Regions from separate parts of the Homo sapiens genome. Here regions 2, 3 and 4 are each linked to region 1. The links come from fine-mapping of genetic effects on gene expression. A gene starts in region 1. Each other region holds a variant in brackets. All regions are shown on one strand. Distances are from middle to middle. Region 1 holds the start of MMP24OS (MMP24 opposite strand). Region 2 overlaps MMP24-AS1-EDEM2 (MMP24-AS1-EDEM2 readthrough). Region 3 overlaps CEP250 (centrosomal protein 250). Region 4 overlaps MMP24-AS1-EDEM2 (MMP24-AS1-EDEM2 readthrough).

Region 1 (7,808 bases):
AGCAAAATATACAGCTAATGCCAAGAGCTCAGCTTCCCTCCCAGTTGGTGATGGTGAAGTAGGCAGGATTTATTGGGATTCCTGGGTGGTCTCTGGCCTGCCCTGGGTGTTTTCCAGATCAGTGGGTTGGAGGGCTGGGCTCTGGGCCTAAAGCTTTCCTGGGAAAGCTGATTGGGCTGGGCTGAGTGGTATCCTCAGCCCCTAGGGCTCAGCAGGCATCTTGTGTATTCACCCTCTAATTTGGGTTTCTCCAGGGAACAGGCACGGTCTCCTGGTACCCAACAATACCACCGACCAGGAGCTGCAACACATTCGCAACAGCCTCCCAGACACAGTGCAGATTAGGCGGGTGGAGGAGCGGCTCTCAGCCTTGGGCAATGTCACCACCTGCAATGACTACGTGGCCTTGGTCCACCCAGACTTGGACAGGGTGAGGCAGCCCAACTTGACCCAAGAGTCACAGGGCCATCCTAGTCAGTGGTTAGCCACTGTTCTTTCCCAACAGGCAGCAATTAGGGGTCTCTCCTGTGGTTTTTCTATATGGGCTCTTGAGTTTCAGGTACTCATTGGAATAGTGATAACAGAGGCCTTATCAAGTGTCAGAAAGAAGCTGGGGAGGGTATGAATCCTTCATGATTGGGGAGATTGAACCATCCAGTCCTGCATCCTGGGCCAGGATAGGTGATTGACTGTTGAACTTTTGACTGTGGGTGAGAGGGGAAAGAAGTGATATTGAGACCAGCCTCCAGCTGTTCAGGGCATGCATGAATATTAGGGGCTTCACAGCTGCCCTTGACTCTGCTCTAAGCTGTACTTCCTCCTTTCTCTGGGTGAGGCTTTCATATGAGGTACAGAGGAGAAATGAGGGGCTCAGGGAGCCAAGGCCTGGATGCTTCTGGGCATGGAGAACCTTGGTTCTGGGGCTGTAAGTTCTGAGCCCTGAACACAATATCTTTGATTGACAGGAGACAGAAGAAATTCTGGCAGATGTGCTCAAGGTGGAAGTCTTCAGACAGACAGTGGCCGACCAGGTGCTAGTAGGAAGCTACTGTGTCTTCAGCAATCAGGGAGGGCTGGTGCATCCCAAGACTTCAATTGAAGACCAGGATGAGCTGTCCTCTCTTCTTCAAGTCCCCCTTGTGGTAAGCATTCCTGTCCTCTGAACCCCGTCTCCCGAGGCAGATCCTTTTGCCTAGTGTTTGGGAGTCTGGGTCATTACCTGCCACAGTTTGGGACTGGGGCTGCAGGTCAGGGAGGAGCAGGGTTTGGGGAGAGTCTTCATTGAGGAGGGAGAGAATTTGGTGCCGTGACTCACATTGAGCCCATCCCTTGGCAGGCGGGGACTGTGAACCGAGGCAGTGAGGTGATTGCTGCTGGGATGGTGGTGAATGACTGGTGTGCCTTCTGTGGCCTGGACACAACCAGCACAGAGCTGTCAGTGGTGGAGAGTGTCTTCAAGCTGAATGAAGCCCAGCCTAGCACCATTGCCACCAGCATGCGGGATTCCCTCATTGACAGGTACCTGGGGCCTCTCCTTTCTTCTGCTCAGGGTTGGGGGTTAACTTGCATTTTGAGAGTATGGGGAAAAGATGTCATCTAGAATGGGAGCCTACCAGTTTGTTCTGGTAGCTTCTCGAGTGTGAGAGCATATCTGTACACTGCTGAGCAGATAAGAGCCAGCATATTCAAAAAATATTTCTTGAGCATCTGCTAATCCTCATCTTTGTGGTTTTTCAGGGCTAGGATACTAGAGCAGTAGCTGCTTGAGCAGCTTGTCAGAGCTGGTCCCGGGATGAGGGCTGAGGCAGGCACCTCACTTGAGAGTGAGGTGGGCTCTGTGAAACAGCTACTGACCGTGCGCTTTCCTTTCTCTTCAGCCTCACCTGAGTCACCTTCCAAGTTGTTCCATGGGCTCCTGGCTCTGGACTGTGGCCAACCTTCTCCACATTCCGCCCAATCTGTACCGGATGCTGGCAGGGAGGTGGCAGAGAGCTCACTGGGACTGAGGGGCTGGGCACCCAACCCTTTTCCACCTGTGCTTATCGCCTGGATCTATCATTACTGCAAAAACCTGCTCTGTTGTGCTGGCTGGCAGGCCCTGTGGCTGCTGGCTGAGGGTTCTGCTGTCCTGTGCCACCCCATTAAAGTGCAGTTCCCTCCGGGCCATTCTGAATGTGATGTTTGGGGCCCTCAGCCTGTGTACAATCCCTGCACTCTCCAGTTGTTCCAGCATTCTGGGAAGATAGGGTGGGATGAACACAACACACACCCAACCCAGTTCACCACCTCCACACACGCCATTCCCTTCTCCTCTACCATCAGGATGTGAGGCTTCATCCTGGGGCAAGAAACACTCTCCACTACAGTTCTCCTTTTTTCTTTTTTCTTTTTGAGGCAGTGTCTCCCTCTGTCACCCAGGCTGGAGTGTTGTGACGCAAGGATGGCTCACTGTAGCCTTGACCTGTTGGGCTCAAGCGATCCTCTCGCCTCGTTTATTTTTTTGTAGAAACGAAGTCACTGTGTTGCCCAGGCTGGTTTATACTCCTGAACTCAAGCGACCCACCGCCTCGGCCTCCCAAAGTGTTGGGATTACAGGCGTGAGCCACGGCGCCCGGTCTAGTTCTCACAGTTTTCACCCGACTTCTGCGCCGGTCTTCTCTGGCCTTGAAAGGCAGAGAGTCCGTTCCGATTTTCCCCTGAGCTGGGCAAGTCCCCTGTGAGAGCTCTGGGGCATCTGGCTTCGGGGCATTCTTTGACTAAGGTGGATGGAGGTTGCAGGTCTTTTCCTGGGTGGGCGTGGGGCGGGGCAGCGGGTTCCCAGCGTCCTCCTGGCCTGGGCGTCTTGGAGGCTGTTGGGGTGCATTCCGTCCCCTTGCGCGGGGCGGGGCCTTGAGGCGCTGGGGCGGGATTGGCGGGGGACGGTCGCGGAGCCCCGCCCCGAAGCACAGGGTCGAGTCCCTTCTTTCCGCTCCAACGCACGGAGGGTGAGGTCGGTACGCGGTGGTGGCGTCACGGCGCCAGCTCCTCCCGACGCCGAGGTGGGTTCCGGGAGACCCGCGGGTCTGGCTGCGAGAGGTGAGGGCAGAGCCGGGGCGGGGCCCTAGCGGGGTGTCCCGGCGACCCAGACCTTAAAGGGCTTCTCTTCTTGCAGACCATGGGGGCTCAGCTAAGCGGCGGCCGCGGCGCCCCGGAGCCTGCGCAAACCCAGCCCCAGCCCCAGCCCCAGCCTGCGGCGCCGGAGGGCCCGGAACAGCCCCGGCATCCGCCCCAGCCCCAGCCCCAGCCCCAGCCCCAGCCCCAGCCCGAGCCCAGCCCGTGGGGGCCGCTGGACGACGTGCGCTTCCTCATCGCCTGCACTTCCTGGTACTGACGGCGTCCTCCGCAGGATGTCGCCCGTCTGTCCGCCGTCCCCTGTGGTTCTTGCCTGCCTTGTCTCCTCTCCCCACGTCCCTGCGTCTCTTACACCCCCTCCCACCCGAGGCTCCCCAGAGATAGCAGAGAATTCGAAGAGGTCGCCGGGGACTGGAAAGAAGTCCCGGCAGGGCCGCCTTCGCAGTCTACACCCCAGCCTGCTTCCCAGCCTACACCCAGACCCAGCTCAGACCTTCGTGACCACCCCATCCCTTTCTCCGGCTGGCTGGGTCGGGGGCATCCCTCTCTGTCGCTGGCTTCCAGAGGCAGGACAGGCCTCCTGGTAAGCCCGCAAAGTTGCTGACCTCCTGACTTCGTCTGCCTTTTATTAATATCTGTATTGCTGATAACCGTGCTCTTGACTATGTGTCCCAGGTCATGTCCCAGGTCATGGAGAAGCCCGTGCCACAGTGACCCTCCCCATACTCCTGGGGGGGCTGCTCTCCATCCTGGATCGTAAGGAGGCATCATCAGGCTGTGTTCCTGGAACCCCAATAACCCTGGGCCCCCAGGGCCAGCCTGTTGTAGAGGGAGGCTATCTGACCGCCGGTCTGGCAGAGGAGATGGGTGGGCAGCTCCCAGACACCCCAAAGGACCCGGTTCTCTTCCCAGAGCGTCCTAAGGTTACTCTTGGAACCTGATCTTTGTTCCCTCATCCCAGGGAAATGACACACTCTGTATTTCTGTTTTATTTAGAAATGATTTAAAAAACATTATACAAAGGCTGATCAGTTTAAAATGTGACTGACACTGAAATGCTGTGATGTCCCCCAGGCTGAGGGGAAGCTAGGCTCTGGGGCCCCCAGTGCTTTGCCCCTCTGTCTGCCCTGTCCTGGGGTGATGGACAAACAGATGACCACAGGCAGGAGAATCTGAGATTGGAAGCCTCTAGGCTGAGCCCTCTGGGCCTGGCCCCACATCCCTCACCTCTGCAGCCTGGGCTGCCTGCCTCCATCTCCTGTTCATTCTCAGCTGGCCTGCCAGGAGCCAATGGGGAGCCTGGCGGGAGGCGGGGGTGCCTAGAGCTTTCAAGAAGTGAGAGCACCAACCTGAGGAGTGGACAGGGACCAGGAAGTGGGGGAAGGGAGGCCAGGAAGAGGTGGATACAGGAGACACTTCTCATCTCATCTCAGACCCTAGAGGGGTCCACAGATGGGGACACAAGACCCAGCCAGCCCACTGGATGGCCCGGGCAAGTAACAACCTCTCTGTGCTTCATCTGAGGGCACGGTGAGAGTTACCGTCGGCCTCCCAGGGCCTAACACGAGTTTCATGTGAGTGGACAGGTGTGAGCTAATAAAGTGCTTTGCAAAGTATAAAACACTGTACAAACCTATGAATCACTAATATCTCCGCAGTTGTTCCCTGCCTGTCCCAGGGAGCCTGCCCTTGGCCAAAATGAGAAAAAACAAGGATGATGACAGGGGACACAGCGGACCCACATGGGCACCTCTGGGACAAGAGATTTTGCTTGAGACAGCTCCCAGGGCAGCAGGAGTCCCTGTCTGTGCTACAGGGTAAGCCGACCCCAATCCCAGAGACCACAGGGTCGGGGGCAAGGCCCATGCAGGCTCAGTGAGCAGGGGTGGCATCCGAGACCCGGCCAGCACGCTGGAGACTGCCTGACACCTTTTTGGCTTTGGCAGAGAGCCAGTGGGCATTGATGAACCCATTGGCCTTGTCTAGGGCTCCTCAGTGACAAGCAGGGCTGCCTCCGCCGTACTGTGGAGCAAGGCAGGCCAAGCCCTAGGAACTCCTGCTGGAGACAGTGAAGGGCGGGCCAGTGAAGGTCAAAAAGGGAGCCCCCTCAGCTTGGGGCTGCTACCGGTAGGGGTGTCCTTCTAAGAGCAGTGTGGGAAGATGGGCCCAGTGAGCGAGGTCAGCAAGGGCCAAGCTCTGGGAAAACACTGCTTCCAGCCGAGAGATTGAGTCGGCCTCAGAGTAGCTGGAGTCGGCCTCAGAGTAGTGGGGGCACTGAGCACTTCAGACGCCCTGGTCCCCTTCCGAAGGACTCCCAGGCTCTGCCAGTGTTGGCCCTGCAGCCATCTCTGCCTCACCTAACTGGTGAGGCTGAGCTCCAGGCTGCAAGTGACAGACTGGAGCAAAGCTGGGGACAGTGACAATAGAGGGGAGTGGAGGACGGTCACAAACTCGGATCTTCCTCCAGAAATGGGGTCAGCTTCTGCCCCAGCTCTGTAGCCATAGGAGCAGAGCTCAGCTACTGGGGTGTCTGGGCGCTAGAGTGGCCTTAGCAGCACCTTGGTCCTTGTCGCCTGGGGGAGGGCCGCTATGCTGGCCTCATCACCAAGACAGTCACCTCTAGTTCACCTAAAGCCTCAAGCAGCCTTTGCAAAATGGGACAGTAGTGACAGGACATTTAAATATTCACGATGTGACAGCTGGGTCCTTGTCAGACCCAGCTGGGCCACAGCCCTGCCTGCAGCATGTGACCCTAAATCCTGGGTCTCCGAAGAGACCCTGACAAGTGGAGCAGGTTTCCTGAGGGATCTGCCGTCTGCCAGCAGGGAAACCCAGGCTTGTTGCTCACTGTGTCAGAAGCAGGGGTCCTGTAGCCTTGGAGGACAGTGGGGTGGGGGTAGGGGGACATCTGACCAGCAGGTGTTGGCAAAAGGGGACCAGGACTGGTGGTATCTCCCGGATGGGGGATGAGAGCTAGTGCTGGCTTCCCACAGAGGGTGCTGGGTTCCAGCCAGGAGTGGAGCTGTGGTACCTCATGGACACCACAGGATGCCGTGACCACAGGGGCTCCTCCTGGCATGGTCCCTGCCTCCGGATGGAGCCTGGCCTATTCCCTTAAGTAGGGAGTAGTTTGCCCAGGACAGAAGGCTGGCAGCTGGGTGCCAGACACCCACCCTGGGGCACAGCCCCCATAATTCCCTGCCCCACGCTCAGCCTAGGCCAATGCACCCACCACTTCAGCTGTACGACCCCAGCCTAGGGCCCTGCTGGCCCTGGTGAGCACTGGCCAGAGCTGCCCCTCAGACCCTGGTGAGGAAGGGCCTGGCTGGCCAGACCAAGTGGATAGAGAGGGCTCTGGGCTGCTCACACCCATTCCTGGACTGGCCGCTTATAGTAGGTGACAGGCTGAGGGCCTGTCTTGTTCTTGAACTGGAAGATGGTGTAGACCAGCACCAGGATGCAGAGGGACAGGATGCAGGGGATGACCACGGCCACGGCGTTCACGGAGCCCGGCACATCGTTGATGGTCACCATGATGTCCACGTCGTCCTGGGGCAGCCGCCGCTCCTTCCGCCGCTCCACCTCCTTCTGGTTGCAGCCCATCCAGTCACGCAGGATGTTGCGCGGGTAGCCTGGCTCCACGCTCAGTTTCTGGTTGTCAAACTTCCAGTAGTCCCGGCCCTTGTAGAAATAGGTGTAATCTGCAGAAATACAGCCCAGCATCACCACTCCCAGACACTTCCGGCACCTGCTCTGGGGCAGTGTGAAAAGGAGGGCACAGGCACTGTGGCAAGGGAGGCAAGGTGGGCACACCTGGAGGTTTGGGGTGCAGTGCTTGGCTGAGTCATGGAGTAAGAAGCTGCAGAGGGGGGCACCCGGGACCTGGAGTGGTCCGCCTGTCATCCTACGGGTGCTAGGAAACCAGAGGGGCTTCAGGGAGAACTGGGACATGGTTCACTTTGTGCTGCCCAGACAGGACCCCTTGCACGCAAGCCTGGGTCACAGCTCTGTCACACTGTGCGCACAGGTCCCCCTTGCCCCGCTCATGTGGGCTCCATTAAGCCTCAGCCTGGCTCCTGCTTGAGCCAAGGGAGGCAGGGAGCAAGATTTCACCTTGTGTTGACAGCAAGACCTCTCTGCAATTATGGATTTTTTTGGCTTGGCACACATCACTTCACAACACAGATGCAGGACCTTTGGGAGCCTTCTGGGAGAGAGGCTGGGCAGCCCTGCCAATCACTCCCTGGGCAACCACCCCAGGGCTCGAGCAACAGCCTGAGCGGCCCAGCCAGTGGGCAAAGCAGCTTGCTTAGGCCGTCCTCATTGGCTGGCTTCCCACCGTGGCTAGGGCTTTCATTGGTCTCGGTCCTTGATGTCACCTGTCTCTGAGGCTCCCCAAAAAGGGAGATCTTGTGCGTAAAGCATCAGGTATACAAGACAGCCAACAAATAGCAGCTGTGGCCATTGGCTTTCTCAGCAGTGAAGCCTCCTCAGAGACTCCTTCCCAGCCATCTCTAACACGGCCCCCTCTAGCTCGTTGCTCTCTCCCAGCATTTATTTCCTTTTTTTTTTTTTTTAAGACAAGGTCTCACTCCATTGCCTAGGCTGGAGTACAGTGGTGCAGTTGTAACTCACTGCAGCCTCAAACTCCTGGTCTTAAGCAATCCTCTGGCCTCAGCCTCCCAAGTAGCTGGGAC
Region 2 (7,808 bases), 65 kb after region 1:
GATTACAGACATGCACCACCACGCCTGGCTAATTTTGTATTTTTAGTAGAGACGGGGTTTTTCCATGTTGGTCATGCTGGTCTCGAACTCCCAACCTCAAGTGATCCTCCTGCCTCGGCCTCCCAAAGTGCTGGGATTACAGGAGTGAGCCACTGCGCCCGGCCAGAGTGACATTCTTAGTAGAGATCTGAAAGGAAATATAAATGAGAGGGTGGCTGGAGAGCACAGTCCAGCTTAGGAAGTCTCCTTGACCTCTCTCCTCCTTCCTCTGAATTCCTATTTCAGCAGCTAACAGTCAATGAAAAGCAATTTACCTACATCAAATCACTTAATCCTCACCACTGTCCTGTGAAGTGGATTCTAAGGAAAGGGTGAGAGAAGTGACCTACCCCACGACACACCTAAAAAACAGCAAAACCAGGAGTAGAACCCAAGTGTCTGACACTAAATTCATGTCCTTAACCCTTGGTGCCTTTGTTCATTCATTAATTACCTCAAAAATTCTGTAAACATTACTCAGAAGCCACTCTGTGGAAGGTACTGGGGCAAGTGAGGCCGTCTTCAGGTTAAAAAAAAAAAAAAGATAAGACTTGTGCACATAAAAGGCGTGACAAATAACCACAAAACATTACACCATTCTATAGGATTTCAGAGGGGAGTGAGGTCACTCTGGCTGGGGATATCAGGGAGATCAAGGAAGGTTTCCAAAAGGAAGTAGCATTTGAGATGAGTCTATATAAACTGGTAATATTTTAAAAGCTAATAGTTTTATATGCAATATACACAGAACATTACCACACACGTGTTCAAAAGTTACAAGCAATGGAAGACTGTGTGAAGTTTTAATTGGCAGAAAATGGAGGGTAAAAGGCCGGGCGCTGTGGCTCACGCCCGTAATCCCAGCACCTTTGGGAGGCTGAGGCGGGTGGATCACTTGAGGTCAGGAGTTTGAGACCAGCCTGACCAACATGGGTGAAACCCCGTTTCTACTAAAAACACAAAAAAATTAGCCTGGCTTGGTGGCGCGTGCCTGTAATCCCAGCTACTCAGGAGGCCGAGGCAGGAGAATCTCTTGAACCCAGGAGACAGAGGTTGCAGTGAGCTGAGATGGTGCCACTGCACTTCAGCCTGGGCTACAGAGTGAGACTCCATCTCAAAAAAAAAAAAAAAAAGAAAAAGAAAATGGGAGGTAAAGGCCTGGAGGAAGGAAAAGGTCTGATTGTTCAGGATCTAGAGAAGGTCCCAGTCCAATCCCCCGACTCAGTCTCAATGTCCAGCCCCAAATGACTTGAGAGTATTTCTTACTCAGGTTTCTCCCTTAAAAGCATATTCAAACCAATGCATACAATGGGACACTATGCAGCCTTTTGTAATTTTTTTTTTTTTTTTTTGAGATGGAGTTTCGCTCTGTCGCCCAGGCTGGAGTGCAGTGGCGCGATCTCGGCTCACTGCAACCTCCACCTCCTGGGTTCAAGCAATTCTCCTGCCTCAGCCTCCCGAGTAGCTGGGATTACAGGCGCCCACCACCACGCCTAGCTAATTTTTTTGTATTTTTTTAGTAGAGGCAGGGTTTCACCGTGATAGCCAGGATGGTCTCGATCTCCTGACCTTGTGATCCACCCGCCTTGGACTCCCAAAGTGCTGGGATTACAGGCGTGAGCCACCGCGCCCGGCCCAATGCAGCCATTTTTTAAAATGAGGAAGTACTTACGAATTTATGAATAATTAGGACATTATTTCCAAAATGTAATGTTAAGTGGTAAAAAAAAGGCAAAGGTGCAGAATCCTGGATATTGTAGGCTACTATTTGTGTAATAATCGGAAAAAAGAATACATGTGTGTGCATGCACTTGCTCATTTACACATAAAATAGGGACAGATACCCAAGGAACTGATAATAGTGCTTACTTCCTGGAGGGAAGCTTAAGTGGTTTGAGGACAGGGTGGGAAGGCAATTTTTATTTTTATTTTTTAATTTTTTTTAATTATTTTATTTTATTTTTTTGAGATGGAGTCACGCTCTGTTACCCAGGCTGGAGTGCAGTGGCACAGTCTCGGCTCACCGAAACCTCTGCCTCCTGGGTTGGAGCAATTCTCTTGCCTCAGCCTCCGAAGTAGCTAGAACTACAGGCAAACACCACAAAGCCCAGCTATTTTTTATATTTTTAGTAGAGACAGTGTTTCACCATGTTGGGCAGGCTGGTCTCGAACTCCTGGCCTCATGTGATCCGCCTGCCTTGGCCTCCCAAAAGTGCTGGGATTACAGGTGGGAGCCACCATGCCTGGCTGGAAGGAGATTTTTCTCACTGTATACCTTTTTGTATCTTTTGACTTTTTAATCATGTGGATATATTATCTCTTCAAAAAATAAGTACAAGCTGAGCATTTTTTCCCTTTAATATTGTATGTTCTCCAAATGAACAAGCTGAGCTTCTAAAAAAATAAGTGTAATAGTCTCTAAAGGCCACTCCCTGAAAAGAGGGCTTATATTGCAAAATACTGGTATACAGTGAAAGCAGTAACAGTTCACTTAGGTTTCAAAAATTCAGGCCTTCATCTGCATGGCCAAAAAAAAAGCAGAAATAAAGCAACAAACTATAAACTAGGTAAAATATTTATTATTATTTTTTTAACGTAAAACAGCTGTTATAAACCAATAAGAAAAAGACCTATGACCCAATTCAATAATGGCGAAGGACTAAATGGGCTTCATGCAAACAGAAATATAAATGGACTCTTTTTTTTTTTTGAGACAGTCTCGCTCCGTTACCCAGGATGGAGTGCAGTGGCACGATCTTAACTCACTGCAACCTCTGCTTCCTTGGTTCAAGCGATTCTCATGTCTCAGCCTCCCAAGTAGCTGGGACTACAGGCACATGCCACCATACCTGACTAATTTTTTTGTGTTTTTTGTAGAGACGCGGTTTTGCCGTGTTGGCCAGGCTGATCTGGAACTCTTGGCCTCAAGTGATCCATCTGCCTCGGCCTCCCAAAGTGCTGGGATTATGGGCGTGAGCCACTGTGCCTGGCCTGAACAGACTCCTATAATAATTTTTTAAATGACCAACCATGTTTGTAATTAAAGAAAGGCAAATTAAGACAATCAGCCACTGCTTTCTTAACATTATCAGACTGCAAATACCAAAAGGTTGGATACTACAGAGTGTTAAAGAGGGCATGATAAAACAGATACTCCTCCATACTGTTGGAAGAGATACAAATTGGTTTACTCTCTTCAGGTCACCAACTGGCAATGCCTATCAACCTTGAAAATGAGCATACCTTTGACCCATCAATTCTAATTCTGAGAATTTATCCTAGATAGATATCCTTGCATAGGTGCAAACACAAAATTATTTGTAGCAAATTATTCAATTGCCTCATTCTTTGTAATTACAAAACACCAAAATCAACCTAAGTACTTTCCAGTTGGGGAAATTGCTACATCTAAACTGAGGAATACACTGGGAAGAAGTTGAAAATGGTGTGGCTGTGTATTACTGTTACGACAAGACCTTGATTTAGCCCCTTCATTATCTCTTACTTGGACCGCAGTAATAACTTCCCAGCAGGTCTCCCTGCCTTCATCTTGCCCTCTTGCAGGACCTGCTACGTAATTTGCAGGGCCCAGTGCAAAAATGAAAATGCAAGTCTCCTTGTTAAAAAAAAAATAAGAATTTCAAAATGATGACAGCAGAACATTAAAACAAGCGTGAGGGCCCTTCTAAGAGGGGGGCCCTGTGTGACTACAGAGGTCACAAGTCCATGAAGCAGGTCTTGCCCCTTGAGTGTCACTTGGACACTG[G/T]CTGCCCATGTGACATGCTGCATCCTCTGCCTGGAACATCCTTCCACTGCCATCTCTTTTTCTCTATGATGTACTACACGCCTGCCAATAAATAACTCTAATGTGACCTCCTTTGGGAAGTTTTCCCAAAGTCTTAAAAAGTTCTTACTCAAAGTCTTACAAAGTTCTTACTCAAATCACTCTTTCTTCAGTACTCCCCTAGCTCTTGCACATAGTTTTATTAACTCTTTATCACAGTGTTTGTTTTTTTTTTTCTTGAGACAGAGTTTCACTCTTGTAACCCAGGCTGGAGTGCAGTGGCATGATCTTGGCTCACTACAACCTCTGCCTCCTAGGTTCAAGCAATTCTCCTGCTCTCAGTCTCCCAAGTAGCTGGGATTACAGTTGTGAGCCACCACACCCAGCTAATTTTTTTATATTTTTAGTAGAGATGGTGTTTCACCATGTTGGCCAGGCTGGTCTCAAACTCCTGATCTCGGGTGATCCTCCTGCCTCAGCCTTCCAAAGTGCTGATATTACAGGCGTGAGCCACCACGCCCAGCCGATCACAGTGTTTTTATAATTATTTCTTTAAAAGTTTCTCTCCTAGAGTTTCTGCAGGACTTGGCCTATGGATTGTGCTTTGTTTGTTTTTTGGGTAACTCTGGCACCTCATACATTACCTAGCACATGGGAGTTGAGAGAATGAATCAGCTGGAGTGGATGTATTTGGATGGGTGTGTTAAAAAATCAGCCATATATTGCTTCACAGTTACACCTCATCTTCAGGTTGTTAAATCTGACTGGACTCTTAATTTAATAGAGGCCAGCAGGTCCTGATGACTGGTTCTTCATTCCAGGAGCCATAGAATAGTATCAGACAGTCCCTTGAAGGGGTGGGAGGTACCTGGACCTGAAAATTTTGGAGGCTCCCGCAAGCCATTTACACCTATCTCTGAATCTCCTTATACCTTTCACGCTTTTAAAATGGAGGTGCAATCTCATTAGGGCCCACTGGCCCCATCAATCAGTGCCAGGTTCCAGGAACCCAGTAGTTTCAGATTGCCCCCAGTCCTTTGCAACACTGGTTTTCAAATGGGGTATGCAATAGCCGTAAAGTAAATGAAGGCTTGGTAAGCGGTACTCATGCATGGATATATTTAAGGAAATTCATTTCCAGATCCTCAACTTCCAGATGTACTCCACCTGAGAAAGTTCCTGGGGTTGAGGCTCCAAGCCGACTTTTTCTTCATAATTGTAGTTCTGCTAGTCTTCATAAGAAAGGCCAGGCATGGTGGCTCACGCCTGTAATCCCAGCACTTTGGGAGGCAGAGGTGAGTGGATCACCTGAGGTCAGGACTTCAAGACCAGCCTGGCCAACATGGTGAAACCCTGTCTCTACTAAAAATACAAAAATTAGTCAGGCACAGTGGCACGTGCCAGTAATCGCAGCTACTGGGGAGGCTGAGGCAGGAGAATCGCTTGAACCCTGGAGGTGGAGGTTGCAGTGAGCCGAGATCACACCATTGCTCTCTAGCCTGGGCAAGAGTGAGACTCCATCTCAGAGAAAAAAAAAAAAATGGAAAAAAGAAAAGAAAGAAAGGCATATATCTGACCCACCCTGAATGATACATTGCACGGGGCAATTAAAAAAAAGTTCAGAACTGGGGACAGTTAAAAATACAAGATTCAGAAAATAGCCTTCTATTATCTTTTAAAAATATGTCTATATTTTTGTTTGTTTGTTTTGAGACAGGGTCTCGCTCTGTTGCCCAGGCTGGAGTGCAGTGGCGCAACCGTAGCTTACTGCAGCCTCAATCTCCTGAGTTCAAGTGATCCTCCCGCCTCAGCCTCCCAAGTAGCTGAGACTACAGGCGTGTGCCACCACACCCACCTAATTTTTAAAAATTTTTCATAGAGATGAGGTCATACTATATTGCCCAGGCTGGTCCTCAATTCCTAAGCTCAAACAGTTCTCCCATCTTGGCCTCCCAAAGTGTTGATATTACAGGTATGAGTCACTGCACTTGGCCTAATGTTTTTTAAAAATTTTATTTATTTATTTTCTTAGAGATAGGGTCTTGCTCTGTTGCCCAGGTAGAAGTATAGTGGCATGATTATAGCTCACTGCAGCCTTGAACTCCTGGGCTCAAGCAATTCTCCCACCTCAGCCTCCCAAATAGCTAGGACTACAGACACACACCACCACACCTGGCTAATTTTTTAATTTTTGTAGAGATGGAGTTTCTCTATGTTGCCCAGGTTGGTCTCAAACTCCTGGGGTCCAGTGATCCTCCAGACTCAGCCTCCCAAAACATTTGGATTACAGGCTTGAGCCGCTGTGCCCAGCTCACATTATTTATCAAAATTATTTTAAGTGGTATGTGAGCAAAAGACTATGAAGACCACTGGTTCAAGACCATAGGCTATGGTGGCCTTTAGGAGGTTTTCTAAGAGGTAGTGGCCTAGTCTTCTCCACCTCTAGTCCTCTGAAACTGAATCTGTTTCACTAGGCAGACCAAAAAAATCATCGTAGACCAAGAAAGTCATTGCACTTGATTTCTTTGTAATTACCACCATGGTTGACCAGTCTTCTTTTTGAAATACACTTCCCCTGACTTTGGCATCATTGCACATTCCTGATTTTCCCCTCCTTGGCCCCTTGTCCTAAGTTTTTGCTAGCTCCATCTCTTCCAGTTGACCTTTTAAATTCTGGAGTTTCTCAGGGAAGTTATAAGCCTTCTACTCTTTCTATTATTTTCTAAGAAATGTCATCCATGACCACAGTTTCAAATATAATCTGTATCCCAACAACTCCCAACTTTCTATTTCTAGCATAGACCTTGCTCCCAAACTCCTGAATCTGATTGCTTATTCCACATCTATACCTTAATGTCTCGTGGGATTCCCGAACTGCAAAAAGCCAAAGCCAAGTTCATATTCTTTCCATTCATAATGTCTTCCTCCTCTAGGCTTCCCCTGCTTAGTAACAGTGCTCTATCTGCCCAGTTGTTCATGCCAGAGACCTGGAAGGCATTCTTGATGTCTCTTTAACCTCCCCCATAGCCAACCAATAATTTATTCCTATGAATTCTACTTCATGTAAGATTTCCCTAAGCCTCCAGACCAGGCTACATACCCTTATTCTATACCCTCATATAGCACCTTGTACTTCATAGTATTTATTCAAACTGTAATTAAGTAATTATTTTGTGTAATTCTGTCTCCCCCTCTACACCATAAGCTCCATGAACACAAGGACAATACCTGCTTATTTCTGGCATATAGTAGGCTCTCAATTAATATTTGTTTATTTATTTTTTGGGGATGGAGTCTTGCTGTATCACCCAGGCTGGAGTGCAGTGGTGTGATCTCGGCTCACTACAGCCTCCGCCTCCTGGATTCAAGCAATTCTCCTGCCTCAGCCTCCCGAGTAGCTGGTATTACAGGTGCGTGCCACCATGCCCGGCTAATTTTAGTATTTTTAGAGGTGGGGTTTCACCATGTTGGCCAGGCTGGTCTTGAACTCCTGGCCTCAAGTGATCCACCTGCCTCGGCCTCCCAAAGTGCTGGGATTACAGGCGTGAGCCACCACGTCCAGCTGAATATTTGCTAAATGAACAAATGTAAGCACTATTTATAGTGTCGTAGTCTTTCCAGTGTTGTGTAGTGTTCTGCTGTGTGTTTTTGTGATTTAAAACCTATTGCTATGTTCACGGTAGGGGGCAGCAGAGTACGCGGATACTGAGAGAGTCCAGTACTCAGTATTAAAAGGGCAACTTCAGATAAATGACTTAACCTTTCTGAGACTATTTCCTTCTCTGGAAGTCAGGGTTAAGTCTCCTTCCCTTGGATCAAAAGAGATAAGCAGATGTAAAAGGGCTTCACTGCAGGACAAACAGGAGACAATGTGATTAGAGTCAGTTAAGATAAATATTTGTTGAATAAACAGACACAGAGCAAGAGGATTTTGGCTATACGACTGTGGAACAGATTGCAGTAGAGAGTTGACAGATTCCGAAGA
Region 3 (6,537 bases), 220 kb before region 1:
GGGAGCCAGGCCTGGCTTTGGCCCAAAGGACCTAGTTCTGGGGAGGCTGTCTCACCTGGCTCAAGGCCCCAGACGGAAGGAGCAGAGTCTCCCCCACCACTCAGCTCAGGCCTGCTCTCACAAACAGACCCCAGGGCCTGCTGCAGGGCAGAGTAGAGGCTGGCCAGCTGGGCCTGGGCCTGGGCCTGGTTCCCGGGCTGCTGCTCTGCGGCCAGCGCTTCTAGCTGGCTCTCTGTGCTGCGCAGTCGCAGCTGTAGTTGGGCTGCCTTGGCTTCCTGGGCCCACAAGGAGGCTCGCAGCTGCTGCTCCGTGATATGAGACGCCTCCAGCTCCTCCAGCAGCTGTGCTTCCTGGGCCAGAAAGTCAGCCTCCTTTTCCTTCACCTCTTGCCTTAGTAATTCCATCTGTCAAGGAAGAATTTTACATAATATAAGCAGGAAGCGGATACCCTCTCCTCAGGCCTTCCCAGGCCAGACCCCACTCAATCCTTGTACAAACTCTGATCAGGGCTGGGAGGATTTCAGCTCAGCTCTCAGGCAGGTAGAGGGGCTCTGAAATGAGTGTTACCCTAGATCTAACACCTGGCTGCCTGCCGACTACTGAACACATGGGCCCAGGCTGCTATGCTAATGGGCTTCAGCCCTGGCTTCCTGGGCAGATATGCTGGCTCCTTGCTATGACCAGAACTCTGCCCTGAAACCTCGACGCTGCGCCTAGTAAGACCAGTCACAATAACATAGCTACCATGTATTGAATGCTTATTGTGTTCCTGACACTTTATATATTCCTATAATGGTTATAGGAATTAGGAACAAGAATTGTTCACCCTTGTTTTATGGATGAAGAAGCTGACGTTCACACAATTAGAAAGCTTACATTCAAACTCAAGACCATTGAACAGCCAAACCTGTGTGCCCTTAACCCCTGCAAGCCACCATCTGGCTCTTACACCCCATTCCTTCCCTCCTAGTTCCATCTTTTCTCTGTATACAATATCTGGGGTTCTGATGGGGGCAGACTGAGTCCCTGGAAGTCTTGCTGCTGCCTGCCTGATCTGGAGTATTTCTGGTTGCTCATTCTCCCTGCTACATCTTGCCAACCAGACCCAGCATACTTTGAAGCCGGTGTGCTGGAACCAGGCCTGCATGGGCTACACCCGTGTGCACTTTGCTGTGGGCTGTCAGGTTTCCCACAGGAGCCATGTCCATCTCTGGGTCAGATTCCCAAGCCCCCGCCTTGTCTAGTCCTGGCTTCCCCCTCCTGTAGGGGTGTTGAGGCACCAGCCTATCCTGTAATCAGGAAAAATAGATGGGTCCTCTCCATGAGAGGACTCAGAGCAATCAATCCACCGCTTCAGAATCAGGCTTCTGCCAGGGATGCAGAGCTCATAACCAGAGTGGGAAGTACCTGAGCACTGAGCTCTTTCTGTTCTCCCTGGGCCTCCTGCATGTCCTGGCGCAGGGCACTCAGCTCTTGTTGTCGAATAGAGTCAGCTTCTTGTAAAACAAGGAGTCTCTGTTCCTTTTCCATCAGTGAGAGAGTCAGGCTAAAAAGAGAGGGGTCAGAGTGCTGGGCCATTCTCTTAGGGAATGAAAAATTACCTTCTCATCTGAGTATTCTAAACATAGCATTAATAATCAAAATAGAAATAGTAATGATAATGATTATGATGTAACAATAAAAGCTATCATTTATTGAGCACTTACTATAATAAGTGCTCCTAGGTACTTCCTGCAGATGATGCCCCATTTCAACCTCACAGGTTTTTTTGTGTTTTTTTTTTATTGAGACAGAGTCTTGCTCTGTTACCCAGGCTGGGGTACAGTGGCACGATCTCGGCTCACTGCAGCCTCTGCCTCCCGGGTTCAAATGATTCTCGTGCCTCAGCCTCCAGAGTAGCTGGGATTGCAGGCATGCGCCACCATGCCTAGCTATCAACCTTATTCTTCTCTGGCAAATTTCACACATACCTTATATTAGTACCTCACGTTCAACATGTCCAAATCTTCCCCATCCCTTTCCTCTCCTCCCCTGTCCACCCAATCATCTCCTACTATGTTCCCTAGCTCAGTGAATGGCACTTCCATCCACACAGTGTCCTAACGTAGAACCTTGACTACTCCAGAGTTCTCCCTTCAACCTACCTACATCCAATCTATAATTATATACAATTGATTCTAACTCCCTTAACATCCTTTAAACCTCTTCTCTTCTCTCCTCCTCTTCCCCACTACCCTACCTTGGTTTAGCTTTAGGATCTCTCATCAGGACAACTGTACCAGCCTAACTTGTCTTCCTGCCTCTAGATTCACCACCAAAATAATGTGTCCCTTCTCAAACTGTGTCTTTTTTTTGTTGTTTTTTGCTTTTTTTGAGATGGAGTCTCGTTCTGTCACCGAGGCTGGAGTGCAGTGGTGTGATCTCAGCTCACTGCAACCTCCACCTCCTGGTTCAAGCAATTCTCCTGCCTCAGCCTTCCAAGTAGCTGGCATTACAGGCACCCACCACCATGCCCAGCTAATTTTTTTTTGTATTTTTAGTAGACATGTTGGCCAGGCTGGTCTTGAATTCCTGACCTCAAGTGATCTGCCCACCTCAGCCTCCCAAAGTGCTGGGATTACAGTCGTGGGACACAGCACCCAGCCCATCCCCTTCTCAAATTCCCACAGCACTAAGAATACAAGCTGCTCTTCACTCTGAATGGTCTTCTTTCACTCCTGATGTCTCATGGCATTACAATCCCTTCAAATACATCATAAGTTGGATTGTATCAATTTCCCTGCTTAA[A/G]ATTCTCCAGAGGTTTCCTATGAAACTCAAACTACGAACTCCTTGCTGTGGCCTACCAAATCTTGAATGCTGTGGACCTGCCCAGCTCATGCCACTCTCCTCATTCACCAGGCTCCAATTACAATCCAATCAGGCTCCAACCACTCTTTCAGTTAACACTGTAAACTTTTATCTGCCTCACGGCCTTTGCATATTATTTCTCCTCTTACGGAATAGAACTCCCCCTCACCCTTTTACATGGGTAGCTCCACTTCATGCTGAGTGCTCAGTTTAAATGCAACTTCCTGAGAAAGGCCTTCCCTAACAATGGTTCTAAAGTCTCTTCTCTCTCTCACCCTGTTTCCTCCATGTGTCATAACGTAATAATTTGAGTTATTATTTGATTAATGTCTTCCCCACAAAACTATAAATTCTACTGGGGCAGGGACCATACAGTCTTGTTTATCACTGTATCCCCAAGCATGGTGCCTGGTGCATAACAGGCGTTCACGAAATATTTACTAAATAAATGAAGTTCAAGCTTTGAAGACAGGAACCATGTCCTCTCCACATGGCTACATGTACATCCCAGAGTTGCAGACATGAAAGGCAAGGTGGCCTGAGCAAACAACTGTCAATATCACAGTGACCATGGCAGCCAGATAGACAAAAGCCACCTCCATGGCCTATCTAGCCTACCTGGCTTTCTCTCTCTCCAGCTCCTTCTGAATTCGGTTATACTCCTGGGTCTCTCTCAGCTTCTCCTGAACCTCCTGCTCCACCAGCCTCTGGGAGTCATCCTGGGCCACCAGCTGAGACTTCAAGTCCTCCACCTGGAAAATTAAGGGCATGAAGACCAAGATGGCAGGGCAGGGGGCCGGTGGGAAGATGCTCCTCACCTAGGGCTTCAGGGTCCTTCGAGGTTTACCATAGTCAGTGGCCATTTCCAATGCTCTGGCGATTCTACCAATTCCTACACACTGTTCTTAACCACCCCCTTCCTCAATACAATTCGGCCTGGTCATCTGCCTCCCAGCCTCACATATGCTGCATAGAGGCAGGCACAAATAAAAATCTTGGCTGGGCTGGGTGCGGTGGCTCACACCTGTAATCTCAACACTTTGGGAGGCCAAGGCGAGCAGACTGCTTGAGACCAGGAGTTCGAGATCAGTCTGGGCAACATAGTGAGACCCTGTCTCTATAAAAATTTAAAAATTAGCCAGTGTGATGGCACACATCTGTAGTCCCAGCTACTCAGGGGGCTGAGGTGGGAGAATTGCTTGAGCTTGGGAAGTCAAGACTGCAGTGAGTTATGATCTGCACTTCAGCCCGGGCGACATAGTGAAATCCTGTCTCCCCCACCAAAAAGAAGGAAAAAAAGGCTGACTATAACTACTCCCAAAGGCAAAACATGTATTGTGATTGCTTTTTTAAAAATGAAAAGTCAGAACATCATTTGATATAGGATTCTGAGGAGAAGCAACCTAGTATGTAAAAATATTAGATTTTTGGCAAGGACGGAAAGAACAATTGAAACTGAGACAGCCAGGGAAAACAAAAACTCTGTGACCATTACAGAGAAAGAGATTACTATCCCAGGGCTCTGCCAGGCACATGCTCAACTCTGAGCACCCTCTAATTTTCCACTCAGTACTGTGGCCCACCCATCTACCCTCCCAAACCAGGCAGCAGGGCCAAGGTTCTCCCTGTCCTGCAAGAGGAAGTGGGAAAGCCTGGCTGTGTTGGGGAAGGACCATGGGACTTGGTGGGGAGGAGGAGGGGACCTGCTTCTGCAGGTCCATCTTATCCTGCAGCAGGGAGCTGCTCTCTTCTTGGAGGGCAGCAAGGTCATCTCTGTGCTGCCGGGCTGCCTCCTTCAGCTCCCGTTGAGCCTCCTGGAGCTGGGTCTGTAGTATCCCAGTGGTCTCCTGAAGAGGGATAAGAAATCATTGAGTAGAGGAAATCTGTGTCATAGAAATACTGGTTTTTTTGGTGGGGTGGCAAAAGCTGAGGCAGGAGCCAGCAATCCACATTGTTTCCACCTCACCTTCTCACTTCCTAGTCCCTCTCCTCCCTCACAAAGTGCACTGGCTCACCCAGGTTTCTTGGTCAGAGTCCATGAATTGGTAATAGTCTCTCACCTAGACCATGGAAACAGTCTCCTAACCATATCCCTACTTCCACTTGATGCCACGATCCCCTAAAAACACACACACACTATTCTCTACTCAGGAGAGTAGAGAATACATATACATATATGTATATACATATGTATACGTATATATAAATAAATCATATCCCACCCCTGCTTTTTAAATACCATCCAACTGCCCAGGCGCGGTGGCTCACGCCTATCATCCCAACACTTAGGGAAACCAAGGTGGGTGGATCACTTGAGGTCAGAAGTTTGAGACGACCCTGGCCAACATGGTGAAACCCTTTCTCCACTAAAAATACAAAAATTAGCCAAGCATGGTGGCGGGCACCTGTAATCCCAGCTACTTGGGAGGCTGAGGCACAAGAATTGCTTGAACCTGGGAGGCGAAGGTTGCAGTGAGCTGAGATAGTGCCACCGCACTCTAGCCTGGGTGACAGAGCGAGACTCAGTCTCAAACAAATACATACATACATACCACCCAACAGTTTCCCATTGCTCTTAGAACAAAATCCAAGCTCCTACAATGGCTGACACAGGGCTTCTGGCTACCGCTCCACTCGCCCCTGAGTTTATCAAGCTGGAGCCACACTGCCTCCTTTTTGTCCTTGAACTTCCCAAGCCCTCTTCTGTGTCCCAGGGCCCTTGCGACAGGTGTTTCCTCTGCCTAAAGTGTTCTTCACATGGCAGGCATTTTTTTTTTCAAATGGCTTGAGATATAACTCATATACCATACAATTCACTCATTTAACGTATACTGTGTAGTGGGTTTTAGGATATTCACAGAGTTGTGCAACTATCATCGCAATCAATCTTAGAACATTTCCATCAATCCCAAAATAAACCCCGTGCCCATTCACAGTCAATCCCCATTCCCCACCCCATTCCCCACCATAAATCTGTTTTCTGCCTCTATAGAGTTGCCTATTCTTGGTGTTTCATATAAATGGAAGCATATCATATAAAATATATGGCTCTTCCACTTAACCTGATGTTTTCAAGGTTCACCTATGTTGTATCACGGAGCTGGTTTCTTTCTAACCTTCAAGTCTCAGCTCAGATGTTACTTTCTCAGTGAGGCCTTCCCTGACCACTAAGTGCAAAGTGAACCTCCTTTGACTCACTCTCAGTTGTATCATTCTATTTCCTTTACAGCACTTATCACAAACTGTAATAATCTCATTTACTTTGTGTCTGCTCATTTGTCATCCATTTCTGCCACAGGAATGTAAGTTCCTTGAGAGCAGGGGCAATGTCTGTTATGCTGACTGCTGTGCCACACCTTTTTTTTTTTTTTTTTTTTTTTGAGACTCGCTCTATCACCAAGGCTGGAATGCAGTGGCGTGACCTCGGCTCACTGCAACCTCCGCCTCCTGGGCTCAAGCTATTCTCCTGCTTCAGCCTCCCAAGCAGCTGGGATTACAGGCAAATGCCACCACACACAGCTAATTTTTGTATTTTTGTAGAGATGAGGTTTCACCATGTTGGCCAGGCTAGTCTCGAACTCCTGACCTCAACTGATCTGTCCGCCTCAGCCTCCCAATGTGCTGGGATTACAGGGGCCTGCCACCATGCCCGGCTAATTTTTGTATTTTTAGTAGAGATGGGTTTCACCA
Region 4 (7,808 bases), 21 kb after region 1:
GAAGGCAGCTCTGCTTCCTGGGGTCCAGTCCTGGCTGTGCTCCTGGGCTATTCTATGACCTGGGACAAGCTGTTCAGGGCCTCTGTCTCCTGAGCAGGCTCTTCCCCAGGGGCTGTCCACAGGGAGCTCAGCTGGGAACCAGGGAACACGGCTCTGAGCACTGTGGGAGACTCAAAACCTTTGTCCGCAGCCTTGTCTCTTGCTCTTTTAACCCCTGTTCTGGGTCTGCAGAGAACAGGAGTGACCCCTTAAAGGAAAGAGGCCTGTGGTTTGGGTCCAGGAACCAAAAGGAAGGGAAGAGCGAGGGAGCCAGTATCCTGCTGCACAGAAACCCAAGAGAGCCCTGAGGGGGAGACAGAGGGAGCAGGGCAGGGGCAGGAGGACTCCCTGAGCTTGTGAGGTGAAGGCAGAGGTATGAGGAGGAGAGGCCTGCTATGAGGACCCCATGCTCCATGGGCAGGAGGCTGCTAGGGTCTTCACTCTTCAAGAGGGTGAGCGGCAGGGAAGCAGAGTGGTCAGGAATGCAGTCTCTGGGAGCCAGACTGCCTGGTTTTGAATCCCAGCTCTGCCATGTCCTAGCAGTGTGACATTTTAAATTCTTCCTCTGGAAGATAGAAGGAACAATGGCACCTTCGTCATAGGGATGTGGGTGAAGATTCATGGGGCAGGGTGTGTAATGCGCTGATACCAGCTCCTGGTACAGAAGTATTACCCTTCATTAGCAGGGTCCTGTTGAGCTGTGTGTGAGCACCAGCACCCCTGATAGGGTGTGTTCCTGTAAGTCCCTGGGCCTCCGAGCAAGTCCCCAGCAGTCTACTCGGCTACTCAAGTGGACCTTGTCTCTGCCTCATTTCTTTCTTTTAGGATCTCCATATTTGGTCGTTCCCATCTCATTAACTCCCCCAGCCCCACGAAAGGTGATAGCATTTCCCTTTGCCTCTGTTCTTCTGCCAGTGCTGCCCCTTCCCCTGGAATAACCTGATTCCTTCAAAGTTCAGCTCCATGCCTGTCTTCCAGGAAGCCTTCCATGACTTCCCAGCTGGCAGTGAGTGCTCCTTCTGCTGTGCCCTCCCAGCAGTTTCCCTGAACTGCCTTTATGGCACTGACCGCTTCCTCCCCACGTGATTGCCACTAGTGCACATGCTCGCTGCCCCAGGACTGTGGGTTCCTTGAGGACAAGCTTTGTGTTGAAGAACCAGGTGACAGCCCCCGGAATGGAACAGCGCCAAAAGCACCGTATTTTACCAAGGGAAATACTCGGACCACCTGCAGCAGAACCACCTGTGGTGACTTAAAAATGCGGAGTCCTGGGGTCACACCTGGCTCTGCCACTTTCCAAAGGGGTGAATTTCCTATTTTTTTAAAAAGTATTTTCTTTCTTTTTTATTTTTGAGACAGGATCTCACTCTGTCACCCAGGTTGGAGTGTAGTGGTGCAATCTCGGCTCACTTGAACCTCCGCCTCCCGGGTTCAAGCCATTCTCCTGCCTCAGCCTCCCGAGTAGCTGGGATTACAGGCATGTGCCACCACACCCGGCTAATTTTTGTATTTTTAGTAGAGACGGGGTTTTGCCATGTTGGCCAGGCTGGTCTCGAACTCCTGACCTCAGGTGATCTGCCCCCCCTCGGCCTCCCAAAGTGCTGGGATTACTCCAGTGCTCCCATCGCACCTGGCCCGGGGAGCCTTTTAAACACATGGAGGAGGTGGGGAAGATATTCTGATTCAGGAGGTTTGGTTTGGGACGTAGGCAATCTTTTTTGTTGTTTTTTTTTTTTAAGTTCTCCAGGTGAATTGTATAATGGTTGGGTCAGGCTGACACAACCTGAAGCAAATGCTCGACCTCAACATCACTAAAAGTGGGACAGTCTGCATCATATGTATTTGCTAATATGGTGAATAGGAAGTACCAGCACCACCTAGGAAGTATTCTTGCCAAAAAAATTGAACTTGAATCTAGTCAGCCTGTAAATCTAATGAACAACATTCAGGAATTATGGGCAAGAGAGACGTATTAAAAGTAAACTTGATTCTAGTCACGCCAAATGATTATACTCGGGACACCTGACCCAGTTTCTTCAACAAATATATGGAGGGAAACGTGTGTGTAGGACGGGGGTGTTTTAAATAAAAAGGGCTTTAAGAGACATGTCAGCCATGTGTGTGTGGATCTTGTTTGGATCCTGATTCAAGCAAACAACTGTAAAAGACATTTCCAAGGTACTTTGGGAAAGTGAACTCGAACTGGGTATTAGATTTTAAAAAATTATTGTTAATTTTGTTGGGCTTGATAATGATTGTGTGCTTATGTTAAAAATTAGCCTTTATCTGTTAGAGGTATATACTAAAGTATTTAAAGGTGAAATGTTAGAATGCCTGAGATTTTCTTTAAAATACATCAGCCAAAAAAAGGTAGATAAATAGGAATGCCACAACGTTGATAATTGCTGAGGCAGGTGGTGGGTATCTGGGAGATCATAGAAGCATTCTTCCTACTTTTGTGAGTTTGAAATTTTCCATAATGAGAGTTTAGAAAAAAGAAGTAAGCTAATAAGTTCAAAAAGTTCCCAGGAAACTCCACCCCTTTGCTGAGTCTATGTGGAAATTAAACGAGATAATATATGGATGCTCAATAAATTTTGGTTCCTTGCCTCTCACCCAAAACCTGCCTTCACTGCATTCCAGTTCAGGAGTCGATTGCTGTGGTCCTGAGCTGCATCTGGACAGTTCCTGCTTGGTTTTCCAGAGCAGAGCAAAGTCCTGATTCTTATCCAAAGAAAACATTAGCAATCTTGGAATTTCTATCAGAATTGGCAGTCTTTCATGAAGGTTAGGGTTGGACAGATGGGAGAGGTGCTGGGATGGTGCCCATCCACAGGTCCCCGGTCCTTCCCACACATACCACCGGCTCTTGGGATTTGGGGGCTGGGTCCAACAAGTTCTGCAAAAGCAAGGAGCAGGTGTGGGAAGTGCACACCCCCAGTGCTGGGCAGAAGGGGAGGGCAGAGGAGTGGGAGTGTCTTCCCGTTGCCTCTGGACAACTCTTTGGACATTCATTTGCCTCTATCAGGAATATAACTAAAACCCTATCAGCTAACAGTGCCTGGCACATAACAGGGCCTCAAAAATATTAGTTCTCTTCTCCTCACATCTTATCTGTTAGCACAGACAGCCATTCGTTGACACCGATCCAAAAATAAGAATGAGATAAAGAACAGGTACTCAGCCAGGAATACATGCAGGACATACGGGAGAGATACCAGGGCAAAGGAAACGGAGTTCAATAGGAAAGAGGACAAAAATCTGAAGAAAGAAGAGGACAAAGAACAATTTAACAGGTTCATGACTTTGCCTAGGCTGAGCCTTGGCCAAACCACCTCCTGGTCCAGCCTTTGACAGATAACCCCAGAGCTGCCAATCCCTAATCCATGCGATGATA[T/G]AAAGTGTTCTCAAGGAGGTGATCCCCAACTATAGACACCAAACATGGCCCCAACTATAGACACCAAACCAGCTTTGAGAGTCTGCTCTCAGCCTGGAGCAGCCGCAGGGCAGGAAAAAAGGATGCTCGGTGTTTCCCAAGCTTGTTTGAGCTCAAGAGTCAGGATTTCTGTGGGAAGGGCCTGGGAATCCCCGTTTATAACAAGAACCCCCATTGGTTCTTATGATCAGGCCAGGTAGGAAAACTCTAGGTATTAAGATAGCGTTTCTCATGGTGATGGAACACCTGCATCAGAAGGCCCCAGGAATGTATTAGACCACTTGCAGATTCCCAGGCCCTACCCCGGACCCAGAGAATCAGAATGACAAGAGGTTAGGGTCCTGGAATCTGCAGTCTTTTTTTTTTTTTTTTTTTTTTTTTTGAGACGGAATCTCTGTTGCCCAGGCTGGAGTGCAGTGGCATGATCTCGGCTCACTGTAACCTCCGCCTCCCGGGTTCAAGGGATTCTCCTGCCTCAGCCTCCAGAGTAGCTAGGATTACAGGCACCTGCCAACATGCCTGGCTAATTTTTGTGTTTTTCGTAGAGATGGGTTTCACCATGTTGGCCAGGCTGGTCTTGAACTCCCGACCTCAGGTGATCCACCTGCCTCGGCCTCCCAAAGTGCTGGGATTACAGGTGTGATCCACCGTGCCTGGCCTGGAATCTGAATTCTTAAAAATGGTTCCCAGGTGATTCTGCTGTGCCCTACAGTTTGAGAACCATGGAAGCTTAGCATGATGGCTGACAGCATGGGCTCCAGGGCCATAATGCCCAGATTCAAAGCCTTATTTCACCATTCACCAACTGTGGGACCTTAGGTAGGTGACTTAATGTTTCTCTATATCTCAGTTTACCTATCTGTAAAATGAAGATAGCAATATTTACCTATAATAATAATTTAACATTATATATTGCTTAATACATAAATTTAATTATGCATTATAATGTATTAATAGATATAATAGTTTCCACACATAATGGGTGGCAAGCACTTGGCACGGGCCTCAGAACACCAGCATACCCACTAATTATCATCTCTTATAATCCAAAAGCCACACTCCTCTGTCCCTCTTTCCTCCAAACTCCTACATATTTCTTTGTGCCTCTGCTACAGCCTTGGGTAGAGTCTGTCTATGACAGGGTTACTTACGTGCACACCTAACTCCCCTGCTAGACTGACTCTGGACTGCCAGGGGACAGAGATCATGCCATTTTTTTCAAACATTCAGCTCCCCCTGGTCTTTGCAAGACTTTGTATCATGTTCATTAGAGTTGGAAGGGCCCTTAGCGATCACCTAATCCAGCCCCTCACTTTGCAGACGAGGAGACCGAGGGTATCACATAGCCAGTAGTTGAACCAGGGCTTGATACCTGCATTGTCACCTTTCAGCTATGCCAGTTGAGCCCCAACTCTTCATCTTAAAAATGGGTGTAATAATGTACACTTGCCTACATACTAAGCATGTGCCTTGTGAGTAAATATTGATGATGAATTTTTTGGCAACCTGCAGGGTATCATTACTATTGCTGCACGGTATTGACTCTGCCTCCATAAATATTCATTGAACCATAGTGGTGCAGGGTAAATTATCCAAGGATGCCAGAATAATTTCAGGGCCTGCTACTCACCTGTGAGGGTGACAAAGGAGAGAGCCAGTCGTGTCATTCATAAGATGGCTTTTGGAGCCCTCATCATTCAGGCCAGAGCCTACTACTTTCAGACCCCTCTTTCAGCTTTAATGCCTTTTAACTTTTTTTTTTTTTGAGATGGAGTTTCACTCTTGTCGCCTGGGCTGGAGTACAATGGTGCGATCTCGGCTCACTGCAACCTCTGCCTTCTGGGTTCAAGCGATTCTCATGCCTCAGCCTCCTGAGTAGCTGGGATTACAGGCACCCGCCACCACGCCCAGATAATTTTTGTATTTTTAGTGGAGACAGGGTTTCACCATGTTGGCCAGGCTGGTCTTGAACTCCTGACCTCAGGTGATCCACCTGCCTTGGCCTCCCAAAGTACTGGGATTACAGGCGTGAGCCATTGTGCCTGGCCCCTTTTAAACTTTTTCTTCAGCCTCTGGTCCATTACTTTATCTTCTTACTGGCCTAACCTTACTTTTCTCCTGCCAACCGGACTATCTTCTAAGTGATCTGACTCATCTCCATGGCCCTGGCCCTGGTGGATTGAACGTTGAATATTATCAGAAATCACAGTTCCCACCCTCTTACGGTCTTAGTTCTTGGACAAGAGGCTCTAGAAAGCAGGAAACTCATCTAGGATGTCCTCCAAGTTCTTTCCCAACAACTGAGCAGCCCAAGACTGACCCCTGTCCCCTCATGGCCTTACCGTCATGGTTGGCATTTCCTAGCGTCCATGGCTCATCGGAGTCAAAGTGGGTGTCTCCTCCAATCCCTGGGCCAGGGAAGTAGGCATGGGCCAGGAATCCCCCTTCTCCATCAAATGGGGAGCTGTCGCCATGGAAACCAGAAGCAAAAAAGATCATGATGTCTGCCTCCTTCCGGTCACTTTTGATCTCATGGTATGGCACCTCTTCAAAGGTCAGTGGGGTCACCTTCTGCCACACATCGAAAGCCTGGCGAATAGCTTTCCGCGTGTCTAGCTCACCCACTTTTGGGGTATAGTTGTGAATGCTGGTGAGAGAGGGGAGGATCATTAGGCAAGATCAGAGAGTCAGAGACTAGCAGAGCTAAAATAGATACCTGAGACAATGTGGCTCAGTGATCTGATTTTGAACCCTAGAATTCTGCTTAGCTGCCTCAGGGATTGAAGAAGAGGCTGAGTAACAGAGCTCTGGATCCCCACCCTGCCTCAGTCAGATGGCTTTGCTTTACTCAGTGTTTTCCATTTGATCTCCAGCAAAGCTGTGTCGAATAAAGGATTCCACTCTAGTTTGTTGAGAAAAGTAAATTGGGGCTGGGCGCAGCGGTTCACGCCTGTAATCCCAGCACTTTGGGAGGCCGAGGCTGGCGGACCACATGAGGTCAGGAGTTCGAGACCAGCCTGACCAACATGGTGAAACCCTGTCTCTACTAAAAGTACAAAAATTAGCCAGGCGTGGTGGTGTGAGTCTGTAATCCCAGCTACTCGGGAGGCTGAAGCAGGATAATTGCTTGAACCCGGAGGCAGAGGTTGCAGTGAGCCAAGATTGCACCACTGCACTCCAGCCTGGGTAACAAGAGTGAGACTCTGTCTCAAAAAAAAAAAAAAAAAACCCAAAGGAAATTGGTAGATAGCATTTTCTGAATTTTAAGTTTTTTTCCCTAATACGAAATATGTTCATTTATAAAAGTTATAAAAATATTCAAATAATAGAGAGGAGTTTAAGTGAAAAGTCTCTTTAAAAAATCTTTGGTACCAATCTTTGGCTTGTCTGCCTAGAAGCTGGCCGGTATCTGATTTAATCCATTATAGGTTTAGCTGTTTAGCGTCGCTGTGTTCATATTGCATTGGTTCTTCACAAAACAACGTTACTACCTGTGGGTTCCCTGCCCTGTGACCCTCTGGGGCATGGATTATTCTACCTACTCCACACGTAAGGAAACTGAAGCCCAGAGAAGTCTAGTGATAGAAGTTACTCAGAGTTGGGTTAGAACCCAGTGCTTCTTTCTCTTGATCCACTCTACCCCTTCAAGAGACCCAAGAGTCTATTCAGTTTCTAACCTAGATTCTTAAGTTTCCTTCTCTTGTCAGATTTCTGGAAAAAAAAAATCCCGTTCTGAAGGGACAGCTTATCAGCAGAAGAGCCCTTAGTTCAACCCTAACTTTCCTTCTCTTGTCAGATTTCTGAAAAAAAAAAAAAAAAAAAAAAAGTCCCGTTCTGTAGGGAGTGCTTGTCAGCAGGGGAGCCCTTAGTTCAACTCTTGAGGATCTCTGTCTTAGATCTTGCCTCTGCACCAAAGGGATCCACCTGAGATGACAGCAGAGCCTTGAGAAGTGCCAGCCAGCACCCACCCGAGCCTGCCCATGCCTGGCCCTTGCCCCAGCCCCACCTGAGCCTGCCCATGCCTGGCCCTTGCCCCAGCCCCACCTGAGCCTGCCCATGCCTGGCCCTTGCCCCAGCCCCACCTGAGCCTGCCCATGCCTGGCCCTTGCCCCAGCCCCACCTGAGCCTGCCCATGCCTGGCCCTTGCCCCAGCCCCACCTGAGCCTGCCCATGCCGGGCCCTTGCCCCAGCCCCACCTGAGCCTGCCCATGCCTGGCCCTTGCCCCAGCCCCACCTGAGCCTGCCCATGCCTGGCCCTTGCCCCAGCCCCACCTGAGCCTGTCCAGTGCCTGCCCCTTGCCCCACCCCCACCTGAGCCTGCTCAATGCCTGGC

What was found.
Region 2: its variant is fine-mapped to the expression of MMP24OS in lung (TOPMed, PIP above 0.99).
Region 3: its variant is fine-mapped to the expression of MMP24OS in whole blood (TOPMed, PIP above 0.99).
Region 4: its variant is fine-mapped to the expression of MMP24OS in whole blood (INTERVAL, PIP 0.95).

Annotation. Positions count from the first base shown.
Region 1 is chr20:35,273,276-35,281,083 of GRCh38, reverse strand. It overlaps MMP24OS (MMP24 opposite strand), which reads left to right and starts at 2,962. Exons shown (of 2, transcript NM_001355003.2): 1 at 2,962-3,075; 2 at 3,152-4,732. The coding sequence starts at 3,155. The coding sequence ends at 3,370. MMP24-AS1-EDEM2 (MMP24-AS1-EDEM2 readthrough) reads left to right here and starts at 2,962. Exons shown (of 15, transcript NM_001355008.2): 1 at 2,962-3,038. It overlaps MMP24 (matrix metallopeptidase 24), which reads right to left. Exons shown (of 9, transcript NM_006690.4): 9 at 4,086-6,812. The coding sequence ends at 6,475. EIF6 (eukaryotic translation initiation factor 6) reads left to right here. Exons shown (of 7, transcript NM_002212.4): 4 at 255-430; 5 at 966-1,142; 6 at 1,337-1,518; 7 at 1,878-2,166. The coding sequence ends at 1,887. RefSeq lists silencers at 2,783-3,002, 3,093-3,312 and enhancers at 3,443-3,612, 3,733-3,832, 4,419-5,026, 5,027-5,634, 7,316-7,385.
Region 2 is chr20:35,208,272-35,216,079 of GRCh38, reverse strand. The region is part of intron 4 of MMP24-AS1-EDEM2 (MMP24-AS1-EDEM2 readthrough); the gene reads left to right. It also overlaps a transcript of PROCR not described here. Among named protein-coding and RNA genes, the nearest start is that of MMP24, 15 kb to the left of the region's middle. RefSeq lists an enhancer at 1-20. The variant G/T (reference allele first, on the strand shown) is at 3,806.
Region 3 is chr20:35,491,586-35,498,122 of GRCh38, reverse strand. It overlaps CEP250 (centrosomal protein 250), which reads right to left. Exons shown (of 35, transcript NM_007186.6): 23 at 4,551-4,694; 24 at 3,466-3,599; 25 at 1,408-1,546; 26 at 56-404. Among named protein-coding and RNA genes, the nearest start is that of CEP250-AS1, 3.9 kb to the right of the region's middle. The variant A/G (reference allele first, on the strand shown) is at 2,788.
Region 4 is chr20:35,252,764-35,260,571 of GRCh38, reverse strand. All of the region lies in intron 2 of MMP24-AS1-EDEM2 (MMP24-AS1-EDEM2 readthrough), which reads left to right. It overlaps MMP24 (matrix metallopeptidase 24), which reads right to left. Exons shown (of 9, transcript NM_006690.4): 4 at 5,818-6,122. Among named protein-coding and RNA genes, the nearest start is that of MMP24-AS1-EDEM2, 21 kb to the left of the region's middle. The variant T/G (reference allele first, on the strand shown) is at 3,437.